Linked DNA regions of Homo sapiens. The protein of the gene in region 1 interacts with the protein of each later gene in a pairwise test. Each region holds a gene or a part of one and is shown in the gene's direction. Other genes may lie near its edges.

Region 1 (7,716 bases):
TCTCTAATGGATTTGACAAAATGCCAGATCTGGGAGAATAAAAGGACAGGAAATTCAGGTGAAGGGAGCTTTTTAGGTTCTTGTTTAGTACATTGTCCTGAATATTAGTTATTAGATACATTTTCTAGCTGCCTGGTGATGGAAAGGTTTCATTGTGCTAATAATACTGATCCTCTCCGTATCTCCGTGTTCTAAGTAACCATCCTACTCAGTGAGGCAATCGCTCCGGCATGCCTAACAGCTATGTCAAGGGCCCTTTTCTCTTGAAGTTGATAATAAAACCCTCTCTTGCATATCTTGGCTAAAGAATATGAAATAGTTAAATCATAAAGGTCAATGTTTGGTAACAAAGTCTCTACAAGTGCAGCCATTACACATTATGGAATTCCATGTGAGATCGTTAAGGTAATAGAGAAAAAAATAGAAATATTTGTCAATTATTCTCAAAGAGAAATTTATGAAATTACACAGCACTAAAACATCACTTTACCATGGATGGGTCTATAAGATGCGACTTGAATTCATGGCAAGAGAAACTCATAGAAGAGTTTTTGAAGGGCATTTTCAACTTATGTACAAATGTCATAAGAAGTGTTGAAAGTCAGTTAAGAGAATTTGGCAGATTTTCTTGTGTTATAAATTTGTATTAAATTTAGTTTGTTTAATTTGTCCTAATGGACATCATAAATCAACAGAATCATGTGGATTTTACACAATTCCTCACCCAAGTGGATTTTAATCCTAGTTTCAGAAGCGTATATTTTTATCTTTGTTTCTTTTTTTTTTTTTTTTTAGAAGGAGTCTCTGTCGCCCAGGCTGGAGCGCAACGGTGTGATCTCGGCTCACTGCAATCTCCGAATCTCCGCCTCCCAGGTTCAAGCGATTCTCCTGCCTGAGTCTCCCAAGTAGCTGAGACTACAGACGCCCACCACCACGCCCAGCTAATTTTTGTATTTTTAGTAGAGACAGGATTTCACCATATTGGCCAGGCTGGTCTTGAACTCCTGACCTTGTGATCAGCCCGCCTCGGCCTCCCAAAGTGCTGGGATTACAGGCGTGAGCCACTGCACCCGGCCTATGTATTCGTTTCTTTTAAAAAAAAACCTATGGATACTAGTTATGTCTACATGACACAAAAATTTTTGTCAATACAGAAAAGTCTATGGTAATATAATTTAAGTTAGCTTGAGACTATTGTTAAGATTAAAAAATAATACTAAAGCTGAGAATTTAAAAATTAAAATGAACATTTTAATTATGGCTAAAAAGTACGTGTGTTTGTGCTTTTTTGTATAGGTAGAGAGAGAGACTGAGAGACTATTTACTATTCTTTTCTTGCCATTAGACAAGAATAAGAATAAAAAAAATTTTTTTGTAAAACCTCATAAAGATTTTAGGTCTATATCATCATCCCACCAACAATAATTACAGACAAGAACGAAGCATTTTACCACTCCCTGATGAGTAACAAAGTAGCCAACAGTAGCCTTGGGTATTGAAGAAATTTTAAAACACAAGGAAAGCCTGACTTAAGTTGATATTAATTACTATTATTATTGGAGTCTACTGCTTAAATTGTTCTCTATGGCAGGGTAAGGAGTCTTTGCTTCCTGGCTCACTGGGCCAGTATTTTTTCCTGCCTGAAAAGTTTCATACGAAACATACAATGTCCTGTGTCAGAAACACCAAAGTCTTCACAGGCTAATAGATTTGAAGTCACTTAAGACATTGAAATGTACGCTATGCTTTATCTAAAGGTACAATTAAAAGTATGGGGGCTATATTCCAGATCTCTGACATGAAGCCGAGAGGAAACTGGATTTCCAGTTTGTTATGTGAAAAGGTTAAGTAAAATACAAACTTCTGTACAGGGAGATAATTCAGTTCTAATAATGCATGAAAGCCAGAGATGTAGATCAACAAATGCACATTTCTGAAATACGGGTTTTTCTGAGTATATGTTCTGAAGTTCTTTGAAAATCTGGCCAAACAATCCCATTTTAAGATACCAGTTCACATAATAAGCAAGTCAGAACATTTGCAAGGCAAAATGTTGTTTTCCTTTCTGCAGCCAGGAAAAACACAGCTCTAAGCTTAGGTTGTAACGGTAAAAGGATTTGGGAGCTGCTGATTTTAGAGACTCATAAAAACAACTCGCCCTTATGCCGGGAGGTATAAAGAATATGCAGAGTCTGCACTGTGCTTCTAGTGTCAGGACAAATCATTCTGCTTTTTCTTTGAGATTAACTGATGCCAATGGATGAGTAAAGGGAGAAATAAATGTACAGACTGAGACCTGCAGCTTGGTGAGGTGAGTAACACCTTTATCACAAAATCATGAGTTCTCTCTTCCCCTTTGTAAATTCCTTGGGGTTAACTTATGTAATTTTAAAAAATTTTAGGAGTGAAATATGTATTATTAATCATATGTGAGGCTCTACATTTTCTGCTATTTATGGTTTATATTGTGTGGGATCTTACAGATCACAGCATCTTTTTAAAATATATGTGCTTTTTTGGGGGGTGGGAGATAAATCAAGGGGTGAAACTGAAGGTGATACATTCCCTTAAATCCATTAGGGAATGGTGAATACACTTGCATATATAAAATAACTACTGAGTGCTTCCTAGATACCTAGCTCTGTTCCAGCTGCCTCTCACCAGTTCTCATTTAATTCTCCAATCCCATATTAAGAGGTGAAGAAACTGAGGCACAGAATCACCTCATTAAGAAGCACATAAAGTATGGTGCCAGGATTTGAACCTAGACAATTTGACTGTAACGTGTACGCCCCTAATCATTCCCTTAGGTAGTCCTCAGGTTCTGTAATTATTATACCTGACTGCTTAAGACTCAGGTAACTCCCTTTTGGCCACTTCTAAGCCACTACTGTCAGATGTTATTAATAGTAAAGAGACGATATCAATGTTTAAAATGGCCATTCAATAAGAGGACTGAAAACACTGGCCCCTGGAAATTCCCAACTTCCACGTGACTCAGAAGTTACTCAACTCTTTCACTAAACCCAGTGCTCCACCCAATGTAGCTAACTTTGTCGTCGCGTAGCAACAGAACCTCGCCATACTGGAAGCGGGGCGCGGGGGGGGGATTTTCTCGACTGAGGATGCTGCTGCCCGGTAGCCAGCAAGGGCCCTGTCGGTCTCAAACGTGAATTTTGGACCGACACAATCTCATGTAGTGATTGTTCTGCTTCCTGTGTTGCGCCACAACAAATTTCCTTGGGCTACATTTTCCCTCAGATTTGAGTAAAAGATTTGAGGTCACGCTAAGGAGCCTGCATACTGAGGTACAGAAACGGTTTTTTGTTTACAACAACAACAAAAAACCTCGCGACGGGACCGCCGAGTTTGCGGCAGCCAAAAAAGCTAGCGATGAGCTCAGCTAAAGTGCCGGGACTCTCGGATAGATTTCTAACATGTTTGAAATGTGGACCCCAACGCTGGAACCCAACGCTGTTCTTTTGTGGTCTCTGGAACCACCACGCTGGAATAGGCTGGAACCCAACCAACGCTGTTCTTTTGTGGTCTCTGCCTCTGGGGAGTCCACAAGCTGTAAATCTAACATGCAGCCAGCCGTGCGGCTTCTGGCCGCCCCACGTCTGAGTAAAGCCTTCACTGTGACTAGCAGGGAGAGGAGACTGACTGGAGCCAGAGAATGGAGGCGGCGGGCTGGCGGGGGTGGGGAGAGGCACTTTCAGGCGCACTTCACAGACGCACAAAAACAAGGAAGCCTGAAGGGAAGGCGGTTGAAAATAAGGCAACAGAAGCCGCGAACGGAAGCGCGCCCCCCTCAGGATTGGTTTAACATTCCGAAGCTCAGCCTCGCCCGCCCCGAAGACCTGCTGCGGATCGCGGCCGCGCGCGCGCGCACTCACGCTGCTCTCGGGCGCTGGGCGGGGAGAGCCGCGCGCACCGGTTAATTCTGCCAATCATGCGTCTGGGCCTCCCATCGTGTGGGCCAAGCCCCGCCCCAACCACCCGCTGGCGGAGGCGCGCGCGCAGTCCCACCGCTCTGAGTCGCTGAGTGAAGCGGCGCCTCGCGCGTCAGGCAATCTGGCCAATTGCGCATCTTTTCCGCCTACCGCACGGCCCCGCCCCTGCCACAGGATCGATTTACGGCCGCAGGTGCGCGCGCTTTTTTGCTCTCGCTGGGAATGGCGGAGGGAGGTACCCTGCTGAGGGGAAGGGGGGATCCCTGACACCTGGGCTTCCCCGGGAGTCGGCTGTGGAGTCGAGTTGAGCTCCCTTTCCGGGTCTGGGGAACTCAACCTCACCTTATGCCTGGGGTCTCCGGGGAACTAGTGGGCTTTCTGCAACGGGGGGAAGGAGGGGACGACTCCCGCCCCTAGTTTACCCCTCAAAAGTTAATGCCTTTGTCGGAGGAAGCAATTTCAGTCCACTCTCCTTTTCAGTCCCTGTTGGCCGCTTAAACTAAAAGGCTACAGACGGGCTTAAATGCGTCTCCGCTGTGTTTCTTATGCCTCGGGCCGGCAGGGTAACGGGTTCTAGTCACAGCTTGTAGAGTTCAGGATGGGTGACATTCAGGTCCTATTGTTTTTGAGTCAAGGTTTCGGCTATAGCTTCTTGAATTATGAAGCTGTCATAATAAAGAATTCCTGATTATCTAAAGCTGTTATTCTTCCCTACTTCCAAGGCAGAATTTGAATATATTTTGGTGGATGAAACGAAAACAAGGAGAGTCTTGTGACTATGAGATACTAGCTGGTTGATGTATCATGAAAAACTTAGTGGTCCCTATGTGGGAAGGTAAATGGAAAACTGCAAAAAGAGCAAGAATGAATTACAAAGTGAAATTAGAAGAAATATCTGGCTTACTTGTGGATGCTTTGTACACCAATACAATATATTATTTGATAAAAGTCGACTATAGAGAGGTGTGGTTAATTCGATTATTTTATAATTTTTCTTTTTTAGAGAAAAACCAAGATTTCACTTTCAAGATGGAAAGTCCGTCAGACTCAGCTGTGGTTTTACCTAGCACTCCTCAGGCCTCTGCGAATCCATCATCTCCCTATACAAATAGTTCCCGAAAACAAGTATGAAAATCTTTGTTCTTCCAGTGGATCCATTATGTGTTTCTAAGTATTGTGGCAGTGGTGGTTTAAATTCTACGGAAGGTTGTTAATTAACATAATGTGTAGCATAAATAAGTAGACATTTTATTAAATAATTTTGTTTTTCTTCTAAGGTGACATATATGACACCCACCAGCCCCCTTCCATATTTTCCTCTTGAATGAATTCATTTCAGTTAGTTTCAGATTAGGTTATTACAATACTCCAGATGGAGAAAGTTTGCATCTGTGCAATATTATTATGAAGGTCTTTAGTGGCAGAGTCTAGGTCTTTTCCTTACTCTGTAATTCTGAAGCACCTGGAGTACTATCAGGCATGTGCTTGTTACTGAACAAATGTTCCTTGATTACTGGGATAAACTTCTCAACACTTTTGGAAAGGTGTTGATCTTGCTGAAGTAAAAAGGAAATAAAACAAATGGAGCTTCCAGAAATTAAAGTCATTTTGTGATGCCTTCTTTAGATGTGGAGACAGAAAGCCATCTAGTGGTGTCTAGCATAGAAATGGAAGGACTTTATTTCTGGTGATTTATTGACATTAAGAATGTTTTTCTTGATTCACATTTTTAATGTTTTGTGCTCTTTATAGCCTATGAGTGCAACACTTAGAGAAAGATTAAGGAAAACAAGATTTTCATTTAATTCCTCTTACAATGTGGTGAAACGTCTTAAAGTAGAGAGTGAAGAAAATGATCAGACCTTTTCAGAGAAACCAGCATCTTCCACAGAGGAAAACTGTTTGGAATTTCAAGAAAGTTTTAAACATATAGACAGTGAATTTGAAGAAAATACAAATTTGAAAAATACTTTGAAGAATCTCAATGTCTGTGAATCTCAGTCACTTGATTCTGGATCATGCAGTGCTCTCCAAAATGAGTTTGTGAGTGAGAAGCTTCCTAAACAAAGATTAAACGCTGAAAAAGCCAAATTGGTGAAGCAGGTTCAGGAGAAAGAAGACCTTCTTCGGAGGCTAAAACTAGTCAAAATGTATAGATCAAAGGTGAGAAGAATTTCAGGACCATTGCATAATTTTTATTTTTACATAAATTACAGGAAAGTAATTTCAAAAATAGAATTTTTTTTTTTACCATAATAAGCAATAAGCCAAATATTCAGAAACCTGGCTTCCAACAGCTTTAATTCAACTCCAGATTTAGAGTAGAAAAGGCCCTTAAACACCAGGTAAAACTTTTTAAGAATCTCAGCTCTGATTTAATATGCAGTTAAACTTTTCTCTCTAGTTTCTAGCCCACAGCAATATTAGAAGTATTAAATGTTAGATGCAAGTACAATGGGAACAGAAGTGAAAGCTGACAGTGAATTAGTAAAACTAAAAATGGGCTGTAGAGTACAATAAAAGGTATTTTTAGTAATGATCTTGTGTCTCCCCCAAATAATTAATGTGATTCAGCCATTTTATTTGAGAAAATATATATATATATATATTATATTTTAGATTTCAACCCATATAGGTTGAATTAAATAGAACTTGGGTACTTGGAAGGAGAATAATCTTTATTACCTGGAAAATTCATATATATGCAATAGCTCATTTTCCCTGAATTACGTGGAATAAGTGATGGGATAGTGTATCTCATTTGTTCTCTTGAAATTCTGGAGTTTTTAAAAAATAAAATTTAGGAGTATTGAATGTTGAAAAAATATATTTTATTTATTTATTCATTCTTTTTTTAGAGACATGGTCTCTGTTGCCCAGCCTGGAGGGCAGTGGTGCAGTCATAGCTTATTGCAGCCTTGAACTCCTGGGCTCAAGTGATCCTCCCAACTCAGCCTCCCTAGTAGCTGGGACTACAGACATGTGCCATCACACCTGGCTAATTTTTTAAAATTATTTTTTTGTAGACATAGAGTCTTGCTATTTTGCACAGTGTAGTCTTGAACTCCTGGGCTCAAGCAGTCCTCCCACCTTGGCCTCCTAAGGTGCTGGGATCCCAGGTGTGAGCCACCATCCCCAGCCTAAAAAAATATTTTTAACTTGAATATTGTAATTTTAAAGAGCAGTTTTAGGTTCATAGCAACATTTAGTGGAAAGCATAGTGTCATTTTTTAAAAAGTACAGTTGTAATACAGTAGATTTTTCCCTGTATTATTGCTTCTTGACATAGTTTTGGCCCTATTTAATGATTTGATTTTTCCCTTATCATAAAGATGGCCCAGAGCTTAAGCCAACAAAATAGCCATAGAACTCAAGTTGAGTGACATTGTAACCATTCTACATATGACCATCCTACTTTTTCCTAGATAGAAGTCCCATTCATCCCTGTGTATGTTAGCCTTTAAACCTGCACATCCACTAATTTAACAACTTTAATTAAGTTGAACTAGCATGACTAGTTATTGACATACATGTTTTTTTTTCTGTTTCAGAATGATCTGTCTCAGTTACAGTTGTTAATAAAGAAGTGGAGAAGCTGTAGCCAGCTCTTGCTTTATGAGTTGCAGTCAGCTGTGTCTGAAGAGAACAAGAAACTAAGCCTTACTCAATTGATAGACCACTATGGGTTAGATGATAAATTACTACACTATAACAGAAGTGAAGAAGAATTTATAGATGTTTAATTCCTGATTTTTGCTCCAGA
Region 2 (7,000 bases), on another chromosome or scaffold:
TCTGTGATATGAATTCAGAATTAAAAACTCAGGGAAGGGACTAGAGGTAATTGTTCTGTTTTCTGGCAGGTCCCACATTTAGGCAGATAGGAGAACATCAGTGCACCTTCATCCTGTGCTTTGGGAGAGACAGAGGAGGAGGAGGGGGAGGTCAGAGAGACCTTGAGCCATCTTCAGTTCACCATGTCAAAATGCCATACTTCCGGGTATCAGTTTCTGAGCCCCAGTGATAGCAAAAGGATCCAGTTGAGGATCATGCTTTCTACTTAGTTGTGAGGTCTCTTTAGTCTCCTTCAGTATGGACATTTCTTAGTCTTTCCTTGGCCTTCTGAACTTGAAACTTTTGAAGAGAACAGGGCAGTTGTATTGTAGAACCCCTCAATTTGAGTTTGTCTGATGTTTCCTCATGCTTAGATTCAGATTATGCATCTTTGGCAGGACTGTCGTCGAAGTTACATTGTGTTCTCAGTGCACCTTGTAATATGTTACATTATTTTGATTTATTCCATTATTTACTTTGATTATCTCATTATGTTGATGTCTGCCAGACTTCTCCAGTATAAAGTTACTCTTTTCTTCTTTGAAATTAATAAACATTTTGTGGGGAACTATTTTGAAGCTAACTAAAAATTCCTTTCTTCATCAAAATTTCTAATTTATCTGGACTCAGTTTTTTACTTTAATCAACAGATTTAATCATTACTACCATTATGTATTTTAATCTTTAATTTATCCCCAGATTTGGCCACCGAAAACCATCTCAAGGTGGATTCTGTGTCGTTTCAACATGTCATCATCATTCTTTAAGCATTTCCTTGCTTTTTGGCATCATAAGATGTCCCAGGCTCATCTTGCAGTTTTTCTATCCTGGTTTTGGGATCAACCATTTCTCTAAAGAGTCCTGGTTCCTTTTGGTGGAGAATAGTATTAGAAACCAAAGTCTGGGTGCTGAGTGTGCTCATTGCTCATTGTGGTTGTATCTGCTCTCCCAGGCCTTCTCAGCAGACAGAGCTAGGGTATATATGTATTTGTATATACACAAGATACACACATAGGCATTGCTTTTTTTTTTTTTTTTTCTGAGATGGAGTCTCACTCTGTCGCTCAGGCTGGAGTGCTGTGACGCAGTCTTGACTCACTGCAACCTCTGCCTCCCGGCTTCAAGCGATTCTCCTGCCTCAGCCTCCCGAGTAGCTAGGATTACAGGTGCATGCCACCATGCCTGGGTAATCACACATAGGTATTTCTATCTGTCTGTCTATTTATCTATCTATCTATCTATCTATCTATCTATCTATCTATCTATCTATCTCAATCATCAATCAGAAACCACAGCTGCAGGATTACATTGAAATCTAGTTCCAATCAACAGTATTTATTCTTGTTTTCTCCATTTCCATATTTATAATTATCTTCTCTGACGGTGAAAAACTTGGCTCCTATTATCCTCCATATATTTACTTACTTGATCAATTCTGTGTATGTACTTTTGGCCACTGGAGCCCTTTCAGTTGGGTCCCCATGTCCCTTTCACATACTCCCATCATATTGTATGTGTTTGTGCATGTGTTTTAGTGCTTTTTACTTTTCTGGCACTACAAGATATTCCAGGCTTATTTTGTATATTTTATACCCCAGACCTAGAATCAGCCATTGCTCCAATGAGCCCTGGTTTCTTTTATTGAAGAATATTATTAGAAACCAAGATCTGGGTGTTATGCGACTCTCCTCTTTTTTTGACACTCCTGTGTTCATTAAACTAAGACATAGCTAAGTTTTTGCTAGTCTTCTATTTTATTTTTAAGGAGGAATAGATGTCTTTTATTTCTTTTTCAAGAATATTGAGAATTTAGCCACTTGAAATCTTGGAAAATTATATGGCAGACTGTTTATTAATGTGTATCTAAAAACATAGAATCATGATATCCTTTGTCCCATTTTTGATCTGAGAGTTTTTCATCTCAGTAAATTCATATGTAGGCAAGAGTTCTTAAATTTTGTGTACCATGGATTCCTTTGCCAGCTTGGCAAATCCTATGGGCCTTTCTCCAAAAAAAAAACATTTAGTCAATGCCTGTGGGGACAGGCATGGTGGCTTATCCCAGCACTTTGGGAGTCCAAGGGGGGCGGATTGTTTGAGCCCAGGAGTTCGAGACAGTCTAGGCAACTTGGCGAAAACACATCTCTACAAAAAATACAAAAATTAGCTGGGCATGGTGGCACATACCTGTAGTCCCAACTACTTGGGGGGCTGAGGTGGGAGGATCACTTGAGTCAGGGATGTTGAGGCTGCAGTGAGCCGTGTTCATGCCCCACTGCACTCCAGCCTGGGCAACAAAGTGAGACCCTATCTAAAAAAAAAATTAAATGCATAAAATAAAATACATAGAATTACAAAGTAAATCAATTGTATTGAAATATGACTGGGATTATAGGCACCTGGCACCACGCCCAGCTAATTTTTTTTGTATTTTTAGTAGAGACGGGGTTTCACCATGTTGGCCAGGCTGGTCTCAAACTCTTAACCTTGTGATCCACCCGCCTTGGCCTCCCAAAGTGCTGGGATTACAGACATGAGCCACCGCGCCCGGCCAGAAATCAATTGTATTGAAATATGGTTATCAGAATATTTAAAAAGCAAATGTTTGATATAGTGATATATATCAATGTATTACAATATATTACAAGACCTAGTGGTGAGGTTAGTAACTAATGTAGAAGCAATGTTAAACACAAACTATTTTAGCATATCTGCAACAATATTCTATGAAACTATCTGTGCTTTCTATTGGTGACTATCACAGGTGCTGTGAATACTACTGTAGTTTGTTACCATATTCATAATTGAAGAGAATGCTAAGCTTCAATTAGAGGTTATTAGAAATAAACATATAATTTCTTCCCAATCCATGTTTATGGACCCAGCAGGAGAGTTAGTGAAAGCTTCAGGTAAGAACACCTGCGTAGAGAAAGCATATGTTGGAGGCCTCTTGACTTTGTTTACATTTGGGGAGAACAATAGGGAGAATTAAATATTTTAATCAAAAACTTTGAAAAACGTTGGAAAACCAAAATAGTATTCATTTAAAATGGAGCATGATATTATGGTTGGAATGTGAACTACAAAGGAACATTAATGTTCATTACTTTCTATATATTATTTTGTTGAAAAGCAAAGGATTTTTAGAATCTTTTTATATATTATAGGTGTGAAAGTTATTTGAAATATTGGCCAGGTGCTGTGGCTCACGCCTGTAATCCCAGCACTTTGGGAGGCCGAGGGGGGTGCATCACTTGACAAGAGTTCAAGACCAGCCTGACCGACATGGTGAAACCCCATCTCTACTAAAAATACAAAAATTAGCCGGGCATGGTGGCAGGTACCTGTAATCCCAACTACTTGGGAGGCTTGAGACAGGGGAATCACTTGAACCTGGGAGGCAGAGGTTGCAGTGAGCCAAGATCGCACCATTGCCCTCCAGCCTGGGCGACAGAGAGAGACTCTGTCTCAAAAAAAGAAAAAAAAAAGGAGTTATTAAAATACAGACTTTGTTTGGATATAAGCCATATGATAATAAAGCCTTTGATGATGGGAAAAAAAGATATAGCAAAGAAGAGATGTTTCTTCCATAAAAGGGTAAAAGTTCTTATTTCTTTGTTCTTAAATTTGTGTATATATGCTATGCTTATAATATTTATTTTTTATAATATTAGGGGATCATGGAAGCTGATAAAGATGACACACAACAAATTCTTAAGGAGCATTCGCCAGATGAATTTATAAAAGATGAACAAAATAAGGTAAAAAGGAAATTACTGGGTATTATTAAAAATTATTTTATATCTATTAGTTTTGCAGTAAGGCATGTTTTGTATGTCTTTGTCCAACATTACCTTGAATTTGGGAGGCCGTTAGGCTTTAAAAAAATTTTTAACTTCCATTATGTTATTTAAGCCTTACAAGAAGTGTCATATTTTTATTCTTTCTCTTATAAGGCTTACAACACTAGCTGCTTTCTCACTCACACCCTCATTTCTTGGATTTGCATCAACAAGTTAAGAGCATAGTCAGCAATTATCTCATTAGACCCCAAGAGGGAACGGAGGCCCAGGTAGCTTAAACCACTTCCCCAAGGTCATATGTCTGGCTCATTAAGGTAACTGTGTACTATGCGATACTATGGGAATCACAGATAATTAAGAACAAAAACAACAACAACACCAACAACAAACTGCCCCAGAATATGTCCGCTATTACAGTGCAATTTAAAAGTCTTATCATGCTCACAAATAGCTAGGAAAGGAGTTGATGCAGCACTGAAGTAATATTCAGAAGATCTGATCTCAATCTTTGCCTTACTATACAACTTTCTGTGACTTCGGTCTAGTGTAAAAGGTGGTTTCCTGATTTATATAATGGAGATAGTACTACTTGGCAATGTTAGAATAGACAGGTGATGATGTAAAATATTCAACAAATGCATTATTCACATAGTCATATTTATTCTGAGACTGTCTAATGTCTTTCTTTGGTCAGGATGAGAGAAATTTATAGTCTTTAGTTCATTCGGAAAAATGAGTTCAGGGGCTATTTACTTTCTTTGGTACCATTTGATATTTTTAAGGGACTAATTGATGAAATTACAAAGAAAAATATTCAACTAAAGAAGGAGATCCAAAAGCTTGAAACGGAGTTACAAGAGGCTACCAAAGAATTCCAGGTACTCTCTTAATTATTTTATATACTACATTTTTGATGGATGCATGGTTTTTGGAAAAAGCATTTTAATTACACAAAATTCATTTTTAAAACCTTATCATCATCCATGGCACCACCATTTGTAATAGTTCAAAATGGAAAACAACCCAATGATTCCTTCATAGTAGAACGAATTAGTGAATTGGGGTATAGTCATATGATAGAAAACTACACAGCAATGAGAATGAACAGATCATAATGACATGCAGCAACACAAATGAGTTTCATAAACACAATGTTAACACAAAAAAGACAGAAGAGGGCATACCATATGCTTCCCTTTAAATTAAGCAAAAGCAGGATGTTTGAAGTTAAAACAGTGGTTATTTTGGAAGCAGGTAAGACCCAGAAGGGAACCCAAGGGGGTTTCTGGGGTGTTGTCATGTCCTGCCTATCATCTGCGTGCCAATCACGTGTGTTAGCTTTGTAAAATTTCATCTTGCTGTACTTAATGATACATGCATTTTTCTATTATTTACGTACACTTTAATAAATTTACAAAAACAAAAAATTAATAAAATTTACCAAAAAAAGATGGTCATTAGCAAATTACTGTTGGATCAAATTCTGGCTTTTCTCACTGAGTTCTTTTATAATTCTTCTCATCCAAGGTGCTTTGGTAATTTAGATGAGTTTCACGGTTCAAAAAATTGGACATATATTAATCCTCACCATTTAAATTCTCTCCTAAATTTTCCTGTATTTTAATTGTACATAATTTTCACCCATTTTTTTTCTTAACAACTCAGATGTTAAAAAATTAAAGCATTGAGGCTGGGCGCGGTGGCTCATGCCTGTAATCCCAGCACTTTGGGAGGCTGAGGCGGGTGGATCATGGGGTCAGGAATTCACGACCAGCCTGGCTAAGATGGTGAAACCCTGTCTCTACTAAAAAAGAAAAATTAGCCAGGCATGGTGGCGGGTGCCTGTATCCCAGCTACTTGGGAGGCTGAGGCAGAGAATTGCTTGAACCTGGGAGGCGGAGGTCGCGATGAGCTGAGATCACACCACTGTGCTCCAGCCTGGGCGACAGAGCGAGGCGCCGCCTAAAAAAAAAAAAATTAAAGCATTGACACTTCTTGTTTCTGAAGTGGGAGATAGGATATTGAATATCAGGAAGTGAGGTTTTCTGTGTTTATGAGATGGGTGACTTTGTGCAGAAGACTCTGTTAAGATTCTGGTTACTTCTCAGACTGGAGCTAGAATCATGCAGTCTTATAACTCAAAGAGCCTTTAGAAACCGGCCAGCCCTAGTCGACCCACTTTGCAGAGGACCAAACCTGTGATCAGAGAGCTTAAGTAAATTTGCTGTCTGTCGCAGTGTGGTCAGAAATAGAATCAAGCTTTCTCACTCTAATTTCAGAAAGCCCTTGCTCCTCAGCATATACTGGGTATTTCTGCATTATTGGGTAACACTCTGCCTTTACTCAGACATTGTAGACTGTTTTGATGTCAGCCTTACCGTAATCAGAAGTTCCACTGGAGTTATGCATAAAGGCAAAGAATAAATGTAAGATTAAATTGAATGACTCACTGAATATTTCTAATCTCTGTGTTATTTTCAGCATGTAAAATAACCATGGGCAATAGAAATGCAAGCATCTATCTCATTTGTGCATTTATGTGTAGTTATATGAATCTGTTAATCCCAATAATTCTAAGCAGCTAAGTATAACCACCTACCTTTATCTTTCAGGTTACAATTTTTTTTTTTGAAACAGAGTTTTGTTCTTGTTGCCCAGGCTGGAATGCAATGGTGCGATCTCGGTTCACTACAACATCCGCCTCCCTGGTTCAAGCGATTCTCCTGCCTCAGCCTCCTGAATAGCCAGGATTACAGGCGTTTGCCACCACGCCCAGCTAATTTTTGTATTTTTAGTAGAGATGGGTTTTACCATGTTGGCCAGGCTGGTCTCAAACTCCTGACCTCAGGTGATCTGCCTGCTTTGGCCTCCCAAAGTGCTGGGATTACGAGTGTGAGCCACCTGTGTAGCCTCAGCTTACAATTTCTGTTGATACTGTCCCTTCTCATTTTTTATAAACCTAAGTTGTGGTAATGGTTAAAAAGTTGATGGGCAGGTGTTGGGGAAGGTGGAATTTTTAAATTTGATAAATTTAACATCATCTAATTCTGGGCCAGGTGTGGTGGCTCACGCCTGTAATCCCAGCGCTTTGGGAGACCAAGGCAGGCAGATCATGAGGTCAAGAGACCATCCTGGCCAACGTGGTGAAACCCTGTCT
Region 3 (7,000 bases), on another chromosome or scaffold:
GAGCAGGTGGGGCAGGGGTGCTGGGGCAGGTGAGGCAAGGCTGGGCCCTTGGGCCTTAGCTCCTCCCCTCTACATCCATTGCCTGTCTGTTTTCTCTCCACAGCTTAACTCTGGCTACTATGTATCTGGGAGCTCCTCAGGCTTCCAGGGGGGCCAGATCACACTCAGCATGCAGAAGGTGAGCGGCGTTTTCCTCCCACCCCTTCTCACAACCTCTTCTCTGTTGCACTCTTGAAATTCCCCTCAGGACAAAGGACAAACATCCATCTCTGAGGCCCTTCCTGGTCACTCCTGCTGCTCTTTTTTTCATGCATTCATATACTTGTTGAGTAGATTTTTGAACACTTAGTGCTAGGCACTAGGCATATTGGCGAGAACAAAATAGAGGTCAAAACTTTCATGGACCAGACAAGAAATAAATAAAAGAATATATCTTTAGGTTCTACTTGTGGTAACAGACAAGAAATCAGTAAAATAGCATATCAGTGTGTTATGAGTACCACAAAGATAAAGCACAGAAGAGAGAGCTAAGAGTGAGTTGGAGTCAGTTGGCATCTGGTGGTCACTGTGCCCTTTTTCCCTTTATTAGCACTTTAGGCCTTTCTGGAATGCCTTCCGTGACTCCCCATCAGTTAAGAGCCTTAGTTCCCAGCACCGACCATGCAGTATTGAATTTTCTCCCATTTTTCTGGGAGCCCTTAGGAAAGTACTTGGTTTGGGGTGTCAGAATCGATCATTGCCCTGCACGGGGTGCTTGGGGTGGAGTGTATGCTGGGGATGTAAGGGAGGCCTGCTGCCACGTCTGGCCCTGCCTCCCATGGCCCTGCCTCCCACTCCTTAGTTTGAGATGCTGAATGCAGAGTTAGAGGAAAACCAGGAACTGGCCAACAGCCGTATGGCAGAGCTGGAGAAACTGCAGGCCGAACTTCAGGGGGCTGTGCGGACCAATGAGCGCCTCAAGGTGGGCTGCTGTAGGGGCTGAGAGGTCCTGGGCCTGTAAGGGAGGGACTGAGCCCTGAATCCTGTTGCTGATCCCATTTGGGCATCCCTGCCCCAGGTGGCCCTGCGGAGCCTTCCTGAGGAGGTAGTGCGGGAGACGGGGGAGTACCGCATGCTGCAGGCCCAATTCTCACTGCTCTACAACGAGTCTCTGCAAGTGAAGACCCAGCTAGACGAGGCTCGGGGCCTGCTGCTGGCCACAAAGAACTCCCACCTGCGACACATCGAGCACATGGAGGTATGGCCCTGGAACAGGCGTTAGGGCTGGGCTAAGGGCCAAACCGTTAGTGTTGACGTGTTTGTGCCTTCCGAGGCCCTGTGTGCCAGCCAGGGGTCCCTGGGGAATAGATTCTTCCTAAGATACTGAGTCCTGAGGTGGGACCGAGGGGCTGTGTGGGTCCTTAACACATCAACCCACAGAGCGACGAGCTGGGGCTGCAGAAGAAGCTACGCACAGAGGTCATTCAGCTGGAGGACACGCTGGCCCAGGTACGCAAGGAGTATGAGATGCTGCGCATCGAGTTTGAGCAGAATCTGGCGGCCAACGAGCAGGCGGGTATGTGGTGAGGATAGGGCGGAGGTGGGGCCTTATCTGGGAGTGCTGGGCCCTGGTGTGGGGCTGCTGCTTATCCAGATGCAAGAGGCTAAGGCCTTTTTTTTCACAGAGCCTCGGCTTCCTATGCAAAACAGGGCCTGCACTGCTTGGCTCCCAGGCACAGTGAGGGTCCGCCAGCTGGGGTGGCTGATGGAGCAGGCACATGCAGAGTCTGAGCTGTCAGCCCTGTCCTCATTCTTCTGGTCTGATGACGTCTCTGTCTCTCAGATACTTGTGTTACAAAGATTTATCAAATGCCACCTCTGAGCCAGGCTCTGTTCTAGGGTTTGGGGTTATGCCAGTGAACAAAACAGAATTCCTGCCATGTGGAGCAACATTCTGATAGAAGACAGACTAGAGGAAGACGAACTAGTAGAAGAAAAATGGAAAATGTGTTAGCTCTTGACAGATAGGAAAGTAAAGCAGAAAAGGAAGATAGGAAGTATCAGGAGAAAGGGTGTTGCAATTTTGAATAGGAGGCCAGGGAAATGTACTGGGAAGGTGATATTTAAGAATCTAGAAGAAGTTAACTAACTTTTGTGAATGTTACAGTTACCTTCTCTATTAAAGGGAATTGGATGTATAAAAAAAAAAAAGAAAAAACCTAGGCCAGGTGTGGTGATTCATGTCTGTAATCCCAGCACTTTCGGAGGCCAAGGTGGGAGGATCACTTGAGGCCAGGAATTTGAGACCAGCCAGGGCAACAAAGTGAGACACTGTTTCTATTTAAAAAAAAAACAAAAAACCCCACATATTCTATATTAGCAAAAATCGTATGAATAGGCAGTGTCAAGTTAATTTTGGGTGAGTTTCCTTGAAGTCAGCATTATTTACTTTGATGAGTTCATGCTCCGTTGAGGCCGCAATGTTCCCCTCCTGCACAGTGGGAGTGATGGCATAGCCTCTTACCCCACTGAGGGGTTGGAGTCCTAACCCAGGAACTGGTTCTGACACCTTTACTTGCTGATGCTCCTCCAGGGCCCATCAACCGTGAGATGCGCCACCTGATTAGTAGTCTTCAAAACCACAACCACCAGCTAAAAGGGGACGCCCAGCGATACAAGCGGAAGCTTCGAGAAGTACAAGCTGAGATTGGCAAGGTGAGAAGGGGCCTGCCTGGGAAAAGGTTTGGCTAGACTCCAGTGAACACCATCTGACTTCATCCCTCTTCCTCTCTGCCTTTGCAGCTCCGGGCCCAGGCCAGTGGCTCTGCCCACTCCACCCCCAACCTGGGCCACCCAGAGGATTCTGGCGTCAGTGCCCCAGCCCCAGGGAAAGAGGAGGGTGGGCCAGGCCCTGTCAGTACCCCCGACAACAGAAAGGAGATGGCTCCAGTGCCTGGCACCACCACTACTACCACTTCAGTGAAGAAGGAGGAGCTGGTCCCCTCTGAAGAGGACTTCCAGGGTATAACCCCTGGGGCCCAGGGCCCTTCCTCCCGGGGCCGAGAACCTGAGGCCAGGCCCAAGCGGGAGCTTCGGGAACGGGAAGGTCCCAGCCTAGGACCTCCACCTGTAGCCTCCGCTCTCTCAAGGGCTGATCGGGAGAAGGCCAAGGTGGAAGAAACCAAGCGGAAGGAATCAGAACTCCTCAAGGGTCTCCGAGCAGAGCTCAAGTGAGGCTCTGTTCCTGTCTCCTTCCTGACCCTGCCAGGTGGCCTCCAGTCCCACTCACTAAGACTTCCTCCTGTACCTTCTTGCCAGGAAGGCCCAGGAGAGCCAGAAGGAGATGAAACTGCTGCTGGATATGTACAAGTCAGCGCCCAAGGAGCAGCGGGATAAGGTGCAGCTCATGGCAGCGGAACGCAAGGCTAAGGCCGAGGTGAGGGCAGCTGGGGCTTGTGGGGCATTCAGAAAGGCAGAGCAGAGTCCTAGCTCAGCAGGAAGCAGTGTCAAGAGAGTTTCTTCTTCCCTGTGCTATAGGTTGATGAGCTGCGGAGCCGCATCCGGGAATTGGAGGAGAGGGATCGAAGGGAGAGCAAGAAGATCGCGGATGAGGATGCCCTGCGGCGCATTCGGCAGGCAGAGGAGCAGATAGAACACCTGCAGCGCAAGCTGGGTGCCACCAAGCAGGTGCGGCCCATGTGGTGCCCTCGCGTCGGAGCGCAGGGAGTTCCCTTCATACCCTGTTTGGTGCCTCTAGTGCCTGCAGGACCTTGATGATCTGGGTCCCCTCTGTAGTTCTTTGCTTCGCTGCGTTTTCCCATGGTTCCCCCACAGCCATCCTGTCCACTTCCCACGTTCCATCTTGTCTCTGCCCACTTGCTGCAGGAGGAGGAGGCTCTGCTCTCAGAGATGGATGTGACAGGTCAGGCTTTTGAGGACATGCAGGAACAGAACGGGCGGCTGCTACAGCAGTTGCGGGAAAAGGATGATGCCAACTTTAAGCTAATGTCAGAGCGGATCAAGGCCAACCAGATTCACAAGCTGCTGCGGGAGGAGAAGGATGAGTTGGGCGAGCAGGTCCTTGGCCTCAAGTCCCAGGTATGGCCGCCGCCAGCTTGCAGACTGGAGCTGGAGAGGTGGGGGTCATGGCCCTGAGTCCTCCTCTGGTCCTTAGGTGGATGCCCAGCTGCTGACTGTGCAGAAGCTAGAGGAGAAGGAGCGAGCCTTGCAGGGCAGCCTCGGGGGTGTGGAGAAGGAGCTGACGCTGCGCAGCCAAGCCCTGGAGCTCAACAAGCGGAAGGTGAGGCTGGGCCAGGGGGACACACAGCTTGGGCTGCTGGCTCACCTCCTCACCTTCCGGTTCTGCTCAGAGCACCCGATGCAATAGCCTGAGGTGAAGCCAGGCTGTCACAGAACAGCTCACACATATTGAACATTTACATGTGCCAGACCACATGCTGAGTACTTGACATGCTTGGTCACATTTCAGTCTCACTAATCCTATCAAGATGGTGTTTACGGGCGTGGTGGCTCACGTCTGTGATCCCAACACTTTGGGAAACAGAGGCGGGAGGTTTGCTTGAGGCCAGGAGTTGGAGACCAGCCTGGGCAACATAGTGAGACCCCATCTCTACAAAAAAATTTTAAAATTAGCTGGGTGTGCTGGTGCACGCCTGTAGTCCCAGCTTCTCGAGCAGGCTGACAGGTGAGAGGATCACTTGAACCCAGGAGGTTGAGGCTGCAGTGAGCTATGATCGCACTGCACTGCAGTCTGGGTGACAAGAGCGAGACTCTGTCCCTAGGGAAAAAAAACAAAAGATTTTTGAGTTGGAGTCTTGTTCTGTCGCCCGGGCTGGAGTGCAGTGGTGCGATCTCGGCTCACTGCAACCTCCGCCTCCCAGGTTCAAGCAACTCTCCCAACCTCAGCCTCTCAAGTAGCTGGGATTACAGGCGCGCACCACCACGCCTGGCTAATTTTTGTATTTTTTTTTAGTAGAGACAGGGTTTCGCCATGTTGACCAGGCTGGTATCGAACTCCTGACCTTGTGATCCACCCACATTGGCCTCCCAAAGTGCTGGGGTTACAGCGTGAGCCACTGCACCTGGCTGGATTTTGTTTTTAGCCTCGTTTTATAAATAAGGAAACTGAGGCTCAGGGAGGTGGATTGTTCTGCTCAAGAGGGAGTGGCCCTAATATTTGGGTCCAAGCCTCCTTGACTCCAGGCTCTACCTTCTAACCACTCGCTGGTGAACTGTAAAGTGGGGATGATGTTCTTTGTCACATAGTTGTATTAAATAGAAGAAATGTCTAGCTTTGGCTAAAGGCTTAAGATTAACATTGATTTCCATTTCCTCTGAAGCTGTTTTCTTCTCCAGTTAGTTCATTCATTTAAGCAGTATGTTTGTGGTTTTTTTGTTGTTGTTTTTTTTAGACGGAGTCTAGCTCTGTTGCCCAGGCTGGAGTACAGTGGCTCGGTCTCAGTTCACTGCAACCTCCGCCTCCCAGGTTCAAGCGATTCTTCTGCCTTAGTGTCCCGAGTAGCTGGGACTACAGGAGCCTGCCACCTCGCCCAGCTAATTTTTGTATTTTTAGTAGAGACGGGGTTTCACTGTGTTTGCCAGGCTGGTCTCAAACTCCTGACATCGTGATTTGCCCGCCTTGGCCTCCCAAAGTGTTGGGATTACAAGTGTGAGCCACTGTGCTTGGCCCATTTAAGCAGCATATTTTACATCCCTGCTATGTACTAGGCCTTGCGCTGATTGCTGTGGAGACATTGGGAACAAGAAGGTCCCTGCCTTCCAGTCAAAGCTGGAACTTCAGGTCTTGGCAGGCAGAGCAGGCCAGTAATCCCCCAAATAAAATAGTGCATGTCACAGTAAGCCTTGTGCAGGAATCTGAGGTGCTGTCAAAGAAAAATAGGGGAGCCTTTTAGGAGGTGACACTTGAGCTGAGGCCCAGGGGAGCTGCATGTGTGGTGGGGAAGTTGAGGGGAGCAGAGAGGAGAGCCTTGTGAAAGCTCAAAAACCAGACAGCAGGCCAGGCGTGGTGGCTCACGACTGTAATCCCAGCACTTTGGGAGGCCGAGGCGGGCAGATCATGAGGTCAGGAGATCTAGACCATCCTGGCTAACACGGTGAAACCCCATCTCTACTAAAAATACAAAAAATTAGCTGGGTGTGGTGGTGGGCGCCTATAGTCCCAGCTACTCGGGAGGCTGAGGCAGGAGAATGGTGTGAACCCAGGAGTCGGAGGTTGCAGTGAGCTGAGATCGTGTCACTGGACTCCAGCGTGGGGGACAGAGTAAGACTCCGTCTCAAAAAAACAAAAAACAAAGAAACCCCAAAAAACAGCATCACACGGGAGGAACTGGAGAGGGAGAACAGGAGGGGAGGGCTTAGGGCTCAGGAGGCAGGAGCAGCTCCAGGGCAGGTGTCACTGGGGCCCTGGACAGAAGCATTGGTGGGCCGTGACTCCACATGCCTGAGTCACCAGGCTCAGACCAGTGCCTCCTTCCTGTTCCACCCTACTCAGGCTGTAGAAGCCGCCCAGCTGGCCGAGGACCTGAAGGTGCAGCTGGAGCACGTGCAGACTCGGCTGCGGGAGATCCAGCCCTGCCTGGCAGAGAGCCGGGCTGCTCGTGAGAAAGAGAGCTTCAACCTCAAGAGGGCTCAGGTGTGTGCAGGGGTGAGGGGCCAGGCCAGGGTGGTCCACGGTCACGGACCTATCCTGGGGGCAAGCGGCTCAAGGTTGAGGACCCTTGCCCTTAGCCAGGCCTCTCCTGCCCCAGGAGGACATCTCACGGCTGCGGCGCAAGCTGGAAAAGCAGAGGAAGGTGGAGGTCTACGCAGATGCCGACGAAATCCTCCAGGAGGAGATCAAGGAGTACAAGGTGGGGCTGTGGGCCAAGTTGTGCCCTATCCACCTGAGAATTGTAGATGCAGGATTGCTGAGACTAGTGGAGAGTCTGGGGACCCTGGAAGTAATGTAGGGCAGCAGAAAGTGGGCAGCACAGTGGTCACA

The links. The genes of interacting proteins can lie anywhere in the genome.
Region 2: the proteins of SFR1 (region 1) and NMI interact in binary tests that used the Homo sapiens proteins (3 or more experiments, as listed by UniProt).
Region 3: the proteins of SFR1 (region 1) and RNF40 interact in binary tests that used the Homo sapiens proteins (3 or more experiments, as listed by UniProt).

What each region holds. Positions count from the first base shown.
Region 1 is NC_000010.11:104,118,009-104,125,724, forward strand, and holds the start of SFR1 (swi5-dependent recombination DNA repair protein 1 homolog), read left to right. Parts: upstream 1-4,162; 5' UTR 4,163-4,175; coding exon 4,176-4,188; exon of another isoform or gene 4,189-4,757; coding exon of another isoform or gene 4,758-4,956; coding exon 4,957-5,078; intron 5,079-5,705; coding exon 5,706-6,116; intron 6,117-7,504; coding exon 7,505-7,696; 3' UTR 7,697-7,716. UniProt on the Homo sapiens protein: Component of the SWI5-SFR1 complex, a complex required for double-strand break repair via homologous recombination. Acts as a transcriptional modulator for ESR1.
Region 2 is NC_000002.12:151,279,669-151,286,668, reverse strand, and holds part of NMI (N-myc-interactor), read left to right. Parts: intron 1-2,378; exon of another isoform or gene 2,379-3,370; coding exon of another isoform or gene 3,371-3,637; intron 3,638-3,714; coding exon of another isoform or gene 3,715-3,720; coding exon 3,721-3,801; intron 3,802-4,625; coding exon 4,626-4,721; intron 4,722-7,000. UniProt on the Homo sapiens protein: Acts as a signaling pathway regulator involved in innate immune system response.
Region 3 is NC_000016.10:30,765,322-30,772,321, forward strand, and holds part of RNF40 (E3 ubiquitin-protein ligase BRE1B), read left to right. Parts: coding exon 1-6; intron 7-103; coding exon 104-178; intron 179-841; coding exon 842-961; intron 962-1,057; coding exon 1,058-1,237; intron 1,238-1,419; coding exon 1,420-1,555; intron 1,556-2,572; coding exon 2,573-2,694; intron 2,695-2,781; coding exon 2,782-3,209; intron 3,210-3,297; coding exon 3,298-3,415; intron 3,416-3,516; coding exon 3,517-3,666; intron 3,667-3,864; coding exon 3,865-4,077; intron 4,078-4,153; coding exon 4,154-4,279; intron 4,280-6,511; coding exon 6,512-6,652; intron 6,653-6,767; coding exon 6,768-6,869; intron 6,870-7,000.